3 linked regions of the Homo sapiens genome follow. The protein of the gene in region 1 purifies or fractionates together with the protein of each later gene. This does not show direct contact. Each region holds a gene or a part of one and is shown in the gene's direction. Other genes may lie near its edges.

What was found.
Region 2: the proteins of NEK8 (region 1) and CAPG purify together in Homo sapiens (affinity purification with mass spectrometry; one large-scale study listed by BioGRID and IntAct). This does not show direct contact.
Region 3: the proteins of NEK8 (region 1) and SLC25A13 purify together in Homo sapiens (affinity purification with mass spectrometry; one large-scale study listed by BioGRID and IntAct). This does not show direct contact.

What each region holds. Positions count from the first base shown.
Region 1 is NC_000017.11:28,735,216-28,738,867, forward strand, and holds part of NEK8 (serine/threonine-protein kinase Nek8), read left to right. Parts: intron 1-24; coding exon 25-156; intron 157-2,090; coding exon 2,091-2,299; intron 2,300-2,459; coding exon 2,460-2,521; intron 2,522-2,603; coding exon 2,604-2,785; intron 2,786-2,879; coding exon 2,880-3,030; intron 3,031-3,455; coding exon 3,456-3,532; intron 3,533-3,652. UniProt on the Homo sapiens protein: Required for renal tubular integrity. May regulate local cytoskeletal structure in kidney tubule epithelial cells. May regulate ciliary biogenesis through targeting of proteins to the cilia.
Region 2 is NC_000002.12:85,403,818-85,407,469, reverse strand, and holds part of CAPG (macrophage-capping protein), read left to right. Parts: intron 1-3,652. UniProt on the Homo sapiens protein: Calcium-sensitive protein which reversibly blocks the barbed ends of actin filaments but does not sever preformed actin filaments. May play an important role in macrophage function.
Region 3 is NC_000007.14:96,178,993-96,182,644, reverse strand, and holds part of SLC25A13 (electrogenic aspartate/glutamate antiporter SLC25A13, mitochondrial), read left to right. Parts: intron 1-3,652. UniProt on the Homo sapiens protein: Mitochondrial electrogenic aspartate/glutamate antiporter that favors efflux of aspartate and entry of glutamate and proton within the mitochondria as part of the malate-aspartate shuttle.

The sequences.
Region 1 (3,652 bases):
GTGATCCCAGCTTCTATCCTGCAGGTGGTGGGTACCCCATGCTATATCTCCCCTGAGCTGTGTGAGGGCAAGCCCTACAACCAGAAGAGTGACATCTGGGCCCTGGGCTGTGTCCTCTACGAGCTGGCCAGCCTCAAGAGGGCTTTCGAGGCTGCGGTGAGTGTATGCACCCTCCAGGGGACAACTGAGAAATCTACTGCCTCGCCCAGCAGCCCTTGGCTCAAGCCACCTCAGGTTTCTCCTCTAGCTGAGTCATGTCTCTCCCTTATCAGATTACCCCAGGGGAGGGCTATGGGTGTCCCTCAGACTATGGATTTCTGAGAGTAGGTCTTGCCTCCCATTAGACGGAGGGCTCCTGAGGGCAGGGCTGTGGCTTTCCCAGAAGACCCTCCCAAGAGCAAGACTTGAGTTTTCCCAGCATGCTGGGGTTTCTGAGGATATAGCTGCAGCTCCCCTATCAGACTAGGGATCACTGAAAGCCAGGTTGGACTCCCCTGTCAGTCTGGGAGTCTCCTCATCAGACTGAAGTCTCCTGAGGGCAAAGCTGTTATTGTTTATTTATTTATTTTTTTTATTATACTTTAAGTTTTAGGGCACATGTACACAACGTGCAGGTTTGATACGTATGTATACATGTGCGATGTTGGTGTGCTGCACCCATTAACTCATCATTTAACATTAGGTATATCTCCTAATGCTATCCCTTCCCCCTCCCCCCACCCCACAACAGGCCCCGGTGTGTGATGTTCCCCTTCCTGTGTCCATGTGTTCTCATTGTTCAATTCCCACCTATGAGTGAGAACATGCGGTGTTTGGTTTTTTGTCCTTGCGATAGTTTGCTGAGAATGATGGTTTCCAGCTCCATCCATGTCCTACAAAGGACATGAACTCATCATTTTTTACGGCTGCATAGTTTTCCATGGTGTGTATGTGCCACGTTTTCTTAATCCATCTATCATTGTTGGACATTTAGGTTGGTTCCAAGTCTTTGCTATTGTGAATAGTGCCACAATAAACATACGTGTGCATGTGTCTTTATAGCAGCATGATTTATAATCCTTTGGGTATACACCCAGTAATGGGATGGCTGGGTCAAATGGTATTTCTAGTTCTAGATCCCTGAGGAATCGCCACACTGACTTCCACAATGGTTGAACTAGTTTACAGTCCCACCAACAGTGTAAAAGTGTTCCTATTTCTCCACATCCTCTCCAGCACTTGTTGTTTCCTGACTTTTTAAAGATCACCATTCTAACTGGTGTGAGATGGTATCTCATTGTGGTTTTGATTTGCATTTCTTGATGGCCAGTGATGATGAGCATTTTTTCATGTGTCTTTTGGCTGCATAAATGTCTTCTTTTGAGAAGTGTCTGTTCATATCCTTCGCCCACTTGTTGATGGGGTTGTTTTTTTCTTGTAAATTTGTTTGAGTTCTTTGTAGATTCTGGATATTAGCCCTTTGTCAGATGAGTAGATTGCAAAAATCTTCTCCCATTCTGTAGGTTGCCTGTTCACTCTGATGGTAGTTTCTTTTGCTGTGCAGAAGCTCTTTAGTTTAATTAGATCCCATTTGTCAATTTTGGCTTTTGTTGCCATTGCTTTTGGTGTTTTAGACATGAAGTCCTTGCCCATGCCTATGTCCTGAATGGTATTGCCTAGGTATTCTTCTAGGGGTTTGATGGTTTTAGGTCTAACATGTAAGTCTTTAGTCCATCTTGAATTAATTTTTGTATAAGGTGTAAGGAAGGGATCCAGTTTCAGCTTTCTACATATGGCTAGCCAGTTTTCCCAGCACCATTTATTAAATAGGGAATCCTTTCCCCATTTCTTGTTTTTCTCAGGTTTGTCAAAGATCAGATAGTTGTAGATGTGTGGCATTATTTCTGAGGGCTCTGTTCTGTTCCATTGGTCTATATCTCTGTTTTGGTACCAGTACCATGCTGTTTTGGTTACTGTAGCCTTGTAGTATAGTTTGAAGTCAGGTAGCATGATGCCTCCAGGCAAAGCTGTTATTATCCCAGGAGACCAGGGGCTGGAGCTGGGGGGTGCTGCCCTCACTTCCCCAAATTCTCAACCTGGTGCCTTCACAGAACTTGCCAGCACTGGTGCTGAAGATCATGAGTGGCACCTTTGCACCTATCTCTGACCGGTACAGCCCTGAGCTTCGCCAGCTGGTCCTGAGTCTACTCAGCCTGGAGCCTGCCCAGCGGCCACCACTCAGCCACATCATGGCACAGCCCCTCTGCATCCGTGCCCTCCTCAACCTCCACACCGACGTGGGCAGTGTCCGCATGCGGAGGCCTGTGCAGGGACAGCGAGCGGTCCTGGGCGGCAGGGTGTGGGCACCCAGTGGGAGCACAGGAGGTCTGAGGCAGAGGGAAACCTGGGGCAAGTCCTCCCTTCCTGCATGTAGGAATGTCAGGAGGGTCTTTGTCCTTAGGCCCCCATCTGTCCTGCAGGGCAGAGAAGTCCGTGGCCCCCAGCAACACAGGGAGCAGGACCACCAGTGTCCGCTGCAGAGGTAAGTGGGAAGAGGCCGCCAGTCCCCATGGATGCCACACCATTCCCATCAGTTTAATAGTCCCCATGCACTGTACCTGCAGGTATCCCCCGGGGACCTGTGAGGCCAGCCATCCCACCACCACTGTCGTCAGTGTATGCCTGGGGTGGTGGGCTGGGCACCCCCCTGCGGCTGCCAATGCTCAACACAGAGGTGGTCCAGGTGGCAGCTGGGCGCACGCAGAAAGCCGGCGTCACGCGCTCTGGGCGTCTCATCCTGTGGGAGGTGAGCAGGCCAGGGGGTGGCCTGGATGGGTGGAGGTGGAGGTCCACAGCAGGGTTGGGGTGCTCAGGCGCTGCCCATCCCCCTGCCCCTGCAGGCCCCACCCCTAGGTGCAGGCGGAGGCAGTCTCCTTCCTGGGGCAGTGGAGCAGCCACAGCCCCAGTTCATCTCGCGTTTCCTGGAGGGCCAGTCGGGTGTGACCATCAAGCACGTGGCCTGTGGGGACTTCTTCACTGCCTGCCTGACTGGTGAGTTGTCGGGCCTACCTTGTGGGACCTGCTCTGAGGCCCCACAGAGCACCTTCTCTCTTCTCTTGCAAAACACGCACTTAATGAATGCTTCTGTCTACTAGTTATCGAGTTATTGCTTCTGTCTAGTAACTATTGAGGAGATTTCCTTATACAACCTCCTTTACCCTACGGACAGGCCTGGCAAGGCAGTTATTATATTATCCTCATTTGACAAGTGGGGACGCTAAGGCTCAGAGAGGGTGTCACTTGTCCAAAGTCACATATGTTTGAAGGGACTCATATCCTTTTCTCTCTTCCTATCCCATCCTTCCAGCCCTGGTCCCCAACTTTATTTTGCTGCTGCAACCCACTGGAGGACCGGGCTATCTGGAAAGACTGTTTAACTTCTTTCCCTTCTCCTTCCTCACTGCCCTTCTCCCCAGACAGAGGCATCATCATGACATTCGGCAGCGGCAGCAATGGGTGCCTAGGCCATGGCAGCCTCACTGACATCAGCCAGGTGGGTGTCACATATACCTTGGGAAGGGGAAGTCGGGGGATGGCGGGGAGCCCACATCTGTGAGTTGACACCAGATTGGGGGCAGGGGAGTTCCCAGCAACCACAGGTTCCTCTAGCTTC
Region 2 (3,652 bases), on another chromosome or scaffold:
GTGTGCTGGGATTACAGGCATGAGCCACCATGCCTGGCTGGCACTGGGGTTTTTCAAAAGCCCCCAAATGATTCTAATGTGCAGGTGAGCATTTGACACTGTTCTGGACAGAATTCACTGGCACTACTACCATCACTTTGAACATATGTTCAAAATATGGGTGATCAAGCCCCATTCCAGACCTGTGGAATCAGAATCCCCAGACCAGGGGCTTGGGCACTGTTAAAGAAAAAAAATATGGCCCAGGCGCAGTGCCTCACGCCTGTAATCCTAGCACTTTGGGAAGCCAAGGTGGGCAATCACTGGAGGTCAGGAGTTCAAGACCAGCCTGACTGACATGGTGAAACCTCACCTCTACTAAAAGTACAAAAAATTAGCCAGATGTGGTGGTGCACGCCTCTAATCCCACTACACAGGAGGCTGAGGCAGGAGAATTGCTTCAACTCAGGAGGCAGAGGTTGCAATGAGCTGAGACTGTGCCACTGCGCTCCAGCCTGGGCAGCAGAGTGAAACTCTGTCTCAAAAAAAAAAAAAAGAAAATTACTAAGAGGAAACATCAAGGGTAAAGAGATTCTGGCTAGACTGAGCTAACAGGATTCCTTTTTTTTTTTGAGACGGAGTTTCGCTCTTGTTGCCCAGGTTGGAGTGCAATGGCATGATCTCAGCTCACTGCAACCTCTGCCTTCCGGGTTCAAGTGATTCTCCTGCCTCAGCCTCCCGAATAGCTGGGATTACAGGCATGAGCCACGAAGCCCAGCTAATTTTGTATTTTTAGTAGAGATGGGGTTTCTCCATGTTGGTCAGGCTGGTCTCGAACTCCCGACCTCAGGTGATCTGCCCGCCTTGGCCTCCCAAAGTGCTGGGATTACAGGCATGAGCCACTGTGCCCGGCCCCTAACAGGATTCTTGCTGAATACAGGCCAGAGTGATCAGACATCACTGGGGCGGCGGGGGCAGGGTGTTGAGGAACCCAATCAGATATCCACGATTATCAGATCGACCAGATATCAAGGGTAGGGGGTTCTAGGTAAATGGCCTTAGCAGGGTTCTTTTGCTAAAACCGGATTTTACAAGCACACAGATGGGCCTACGGGGTGGTTCAGAAGCCTAGTTAAAGTTTGGCCAAGCAAAGAATCTTTGTCAGTACCGACATTTTAATAAGGTCCCAAGGTCATTCTAATGAGCAGCCAAACTCCTTTCTTTTCTTTTTTTTTTTTTGAAACCGAGTCTCACTCCATTGCCCAGGCTGGAGTGCAGTGGCATGGATCTTGGCTCACTGCAACCTCCGCCTCCCAGGTTCAAGTGATTTCCGGATAATTTTTGTGCTTTTAGTAGAGACGGGGTTTCACCATGTTGGCCAGGCTGGTTTCGAACTCCTGACCTCAAGTGAACTGCTCACCACGGCCTCCCAAAGTGCTAGGATTACAGGCGTGAGCCACCGCACCCGGCCTGCCAAACCCCTTTCATCCAAACCCTGATGTGGCTCTCTGGCATGTAGGCTGCCTGATTTTGAGTTAAACACAGAATGAAAAATAGTAAAGGTGACAATTGGCGCACTCCGTGTCTCATTCTTGAGCGCTCCCTGATGGCTTGAGCTTGGGGCAGCCACTTCACCAGCTCAGGCCTGAGTCACAGGCTGGGCTGCCTGTTGCAGGGGATGTGGGCACAGCATGTGATCCTCTGTGGGATGGAGAAACGTTAAAGTTTCCCTCCGCAAACCTCTGCTCTCTGCATGTCCTCTTCCGGAATCGTGGTGCCAAAATATGCCTTCCACTATTTTGTAGGTTGGGAAAGGAAAAGGAAAGTCATAATTCACACAGCATTTCACATCCATTATCACTGCCCTTGACCTGTCCCTCTTTGTTTCCTACTCAGACTTAATACCTTCTGCTCTGTCATCTGCCTTCCCCCTACCCCTGACTTCCCTGGCCCCTGCGAAATATTGCACTTCCTGATCCTGCTGCCCCAGCCCCCAAGAATCTCCTAATGGTGCCAGCTTGCATTTTTACCCTCCAATTCCCCAAGCCCTTACCCTGTGCCACTGGGGCTCATCTTACACAAACTCTGTCCAAATGGATGCACAGCATGAATTGTATTATGTACGAAGTGCATGCTGGCTCTGTGATCTCTGCATTTTGAGCCAAAAAAAGAAATCCTCTAGTGATGGGAACCTATGAAAGCGACAGTGAGTGGAGCCGTAGCTGTTGCATTTTCTGAATTTTTTAAAAAGATAATATCTTTTTAAAAAATACTTGCGTTTAGCATTTTTTCCCTTGAATGACTTTTGTCCAGAAAAAGTGTTCATCATTCTGGCATTTGAGGGAAGCTGGGCATACAGAATTGATAGCTGATGCCTGGGAGTGGGTGAAATTTCTCAGGGAGGGAGTTTAGAATTAGAGCAGCCATTAAATATAATGTTAGGTGAAGGGTTTTTGTTTGTTTGTTGTATTTTAATAGATGCCTTTTTAACAGGTTAAGGAAATTTCTTTCTATTCCTAGTTTGTGGGTAAAAAAAAAATTTTTTTTTTTTTTTTGAGAGGGGGTTTTACTCTGTCATCCAGGTTGCAGTTCAGTGGCATGATCTTGGCTTACTGCAGCCTCTATCTCCTGGGCTCAAGCGATACTCACTCCTCAGCCTCCTGAGTAGCTGGGATCTGGAATTACAGGCTTGCACTACCACATTTGGCTGATTTTTATTTATTTTATTTTATTTTATTTTTTTGAGACAGAGTCTTGCTCTGTCACCCAGGCTGGAGTGCAGTGGCACAATCTCAGCTCACTGCAACCTCTGCCTCCTGGGTTCAAGCAATTCTCCTGCCTCAGCCTCCCAAGTAGCTGGGATTACAGACGCATGCCACCATGCCCAGCTAATTTTTGTATTTTAGTAGAGACAGGGTTTCACCATGTTGGCCAGGCTGGTCTCGAACTCCTGACCTCGTGATCCACCCACCTCGGCCTCCCAAAGTGCTGGAATTACAGGTGTGAGCCACTGCACCTGGCCTTGGCTGATTTTTAAAATTTTTGTAGGGTTGTGGTCTCCTTATATTGCCCAGGCTTGAAAAAATTTTAAACTAGGAATGAATGTAGAATTTTGCTAAATGCTGTTTCTGCATCTATTGAGGTGATTACACATACATGTTTGTTAATAGGGTGTATAGCATTGATTTTCAAATTTTGGCCTGTTTTTTTTTTTTTTGCGTTGTGAGCGGCTTTATTTATTTATTTTAAATTTATAATTGACAGATAATAATTGCACATACTTAGCAGGAGCAGTGTGATGTTTCATTGTACATATGCAATGTATGTGTATATATTGTATAATGATCAAATCAAGGTAATTAGCATATCCATCACTTTAAACATTTATCATTTCTTTGTGATGATAACATTCAAATCCTCTCTTCTGGCTATCTTGAAATATACACTGCATTATTATTAGCTATCATCACCCTGATTTTCAGATATTAAACCAACCTTGCATTCCTGGGATAAACCTCATTTGGTCATCATGGTTTATTTTTTATATATTATTTGATTTCATTTGCTAAAATTTTGTTAATTTTTTTTTTTTTTTTTTTTTTTTGAGATGGAGTCTCACTCTGTCACCCAGGCTGGAGTACAATGGCATGGGCTTAGCTCACTGCAGCCTCTG
Region 3 (3,652 bases), on another chromosome or scaffold:
CTGAGTGCTGAGCTAATGTGGGCTATGCAAAGAGGCTTCCACTCTTGCCGTTTCAGTTCTTTTATCTGTAAGATGAGAGTGACTGCTTTTAACTTCTCAGAGGAGTAGTAAGTCAATATATTAGGTACAGACAGAGGCTCACTGTAAACACCCAAGTGGCAGCTCTTCACCCTTTTCCTGGTTTAGAAATGGCCATTTATCTTTGGGTGCCCCAACCTTAAGGGCAAGAGACAGAGCTGTCTGTCAGGATGATGAGTAGAGTGTGAATATAAGATTAGTTCTAGGAGTCACCTGTGTTCATTTCTTCCTGATATCTTTTCTGGTAAACCATTTTAAAACAAAAAATTTACTGTAAAATTTTTGTTTAGTCCCATTCTGTAATTTGGATCATCTTGAGAGCAAAATGATGACTGACAGTTCAGGTTAAAATAATAATGATACATAACTTTGCCATGAAAATGACTTGTTCCTATTCTTGATTGGTCAGGGATCAGTTCTCTTTAGTTTCTTGTACATCATCAATAATTAATAATTGTATATAACTGCATATTTGTAAGTGCTTATTGGGTAAGAGAGATCAGATGAAAATGTAGGTAACTCATGGTTATTGTTGTTAATTTAAAAAATTACAATATAAGTAAAAAAGACCTGACATATTTCTGAGACTCAGTATTATCACCTTTATGTACAAAGTCACATTATGAAATACCTATATGTGATTCTTTGTACATTTCTCATAAAATGTAACTTTATTTTAAAATTATATTATTCCAGAGGAAAACTGTTACGTTTAAATTAGGAAAATATAGTATTGCTGCTATTAATGCTTTCACCTAGCAATATTTGAGAAGGTATCAGAGTACATCTTTAATTCATACATGTTTTTAAATATTGAGCATAGTTTTTAGTATTACAGAATTTTGCTCAACATGTAATTTTTCTCTATCAAGGCCTATGTAATTGCTCATATTTCCTGAATGAGATAATTTGGGAATGTTGCAGTTGTAAGATCTTTCTCCTACTTTAAAATTACCTTTGTGTATACTTTGAAAAAAGTTGGCATCTGGCCTCAAAGAAGGTGTTTTTGTAGCATGCGATCTTATTATGAGGTTAATAAATATCTCTTTTTCTTATAACAAGAATATCAGAAGCTGTTTTTGCATTTAAAAGCCTTTCCCTGTGGCATTAGAATGAAGGTTATTTTAAAAGAACTCTTGTAGTGCTCCACCACAAGTTTTGTTCTTTGCCTCCCCCGCAGCTGGCTGCATCAGAATAGTTGTGGAAGTTGCTTGGTAGTCATGAGAGAGTGCCTAGCAGTGCTCTTCAATAGAAATATACCTCAGAGAGTCATGAGAGGTGTTGTGAGTTGGTTAATTCCTGCTCTCCATGTATTGGTATAACTCCGTTTTCTTTATTTCCAGGAGCCTCTCTCCTATTTTTGTGTAAGTTTTAGTTGCTGGAAAAGAGCTCCTTAAAAATCCCATGAGTCTGGCTCTGCAAACCTTCTCTACAGTGCAAACTACTTTTTTCCTAACAAGAAAATGGCAAATTTTCCTAGTTTGTTGTTGTTGTTGTTGTTGTTATTTCTGAAAATCCAACCCCCAGGCCAAGCCTGTCTGTATTAAGGGAAATCACACCTGAGATAATCCAGGTCTTCCTGAAGTCACTTTTAAAATTCTTTCTCTGTTTCCTCCCCAGTCTTCAGAGTGATTTAATGTGCTCAGGTATTTGAAATCCTTAATGAATTACCTGACAACTTGTTTGGTTTGAATGACTGGCATAACCAAATGAATCAGTCATTGGCCTGCTATAGATCTGGCGTATTAAAGAACAACAATTGATTGGGTAATCATCCATAATTAAATGCTCTTAATGTTCCAGGAATAAATAATTTCTGCTTTTAAACTTTGTTGCAGTCTTCTCTCTCAGATCTTTCAGGTGATGAGATGAGCAGCCTTAGACACTGGAAAATGTTTTGGGAGAATCTTGGGGAAAAAGATGTATTAAGAGAAATATGGCCGGGTACGGTGGCTTATGCCTGTAATCCCAGCACTTTGGGAGACCGAGGCGGGTGGATCACCTGAGGTCAGGAGTTCAAGACCAGCCTGGCCAACATGGCCAAACTCTGTCTCTACTAAAAATACAAAAATTGGCTGGGCATAATGGCGGGCCTGTAATCGCAGCTACAGGCTGAGGCAGGAGAATCGCTTGAACCCAGGAGGATGCAGTGATCTGAGATTGTGCCGCTGCATTCCTGCCTGGGAGACAAGAGTGAAACTCTGTCTCAATTTAGAAAAAAAAAGAGATAGAAATCAGGGTCTATCAGAAATACTTCTTAGACGAAAATTTTTGTTTCTATTGATGGGAGAAGCCCTAAAGAAAATCTCCCAGAAAGAGTAATTAGATCATTTTATGAATTAAACTTAATTTAAGCAGTGCTTAACCTTTGAGGAAATTGGCAAAAAAAAAACCACATTTTTTAATCAGCCCATTGATCCAAGCTTGCAGAGTTGTAAATATTTCTATTTCAAGTTGTCTGTGTAGTGCAAAGCAGTCATCTTCCATCCTGGAATGTTCTCAAGGTGACATCTAGAGGATGTTGTGGTGATATCTCAGGGAGTTATTGATACTTTTATATTGCAGAGGGAAGTTTTGGCAGGCAGCTAGTTTAAGCCAGGTCCCTTATCATTGATGGTACTATAAAAGGGAGTATCCAGATTCTTTAGAATCACAGTGAGATTCTTCATTCTTGCATAATTCATGGGGATAAAATAAACTTTAAAATTCTGGCACCAAAATAAAATGATTGAAATTTCCATGACTGTTTTGCATTACTTAAGAACACATGCATCTTGAAACAAACCATAGTTAATCTGTGAACTGCACTCATGTCCATCCATGTCCACCAAAACTTTTAATGATTGCAAAATGGATAGGTTTGAGTCTTTATTTTCTTGGCCAATTTCTGCACGTTTTCATTTAGAGCATTAAGCTATAAAAATATCAGAAGACATGTATTTGGTTATAGGAAGCCACATAAGAATGAGCAGAAGATTTCAACAGATCATTTGTTGGGTTAGCCAATCTCCAGAAATCTACAGTGAGCTAACTTTAGTGAGCACAGGGCATTGTAATCTGAGACTGAGGCGACACACACTGGATCTAAGGTGGGTGAGAGAATTGTTAGAGACTTGAGAGTGCTACAGTAACAACTGATGACCTTAGAAAATTGGAAAAATATGACAAAAAGATAGACGTGTAGGTATCCTAGAGAAGAGGTTAATGAATGAATTAGTTCCACACCTCAAAAATGATAATTTATAACCAGCTACTGTTGCTGAGACTAAAACAAGGGAGATAGATTAAACCTCAGTAGGAGGGAAATAGTTTAGATAGAAGAAAAGATAACCAGGATCCTGAACGTTCTCATGTACTATGGTGAAAAACTGCAGGAGTATCTGATCGTTTTCCCCAATTCTCTTTACTTCTAGAAAGCCCCAGAATAGAGGAGTTGAGGAACTGATTTTTTTCCAGACCATAATCATAATCACTTATTTTATGTTTTAACACTTTGTCTCCCAAAGGCATCCTGAGCCATAGCTAAGATAACAGACAGTGCTTGAAATTTTGAGTGTAAATAATTTAACCTAGA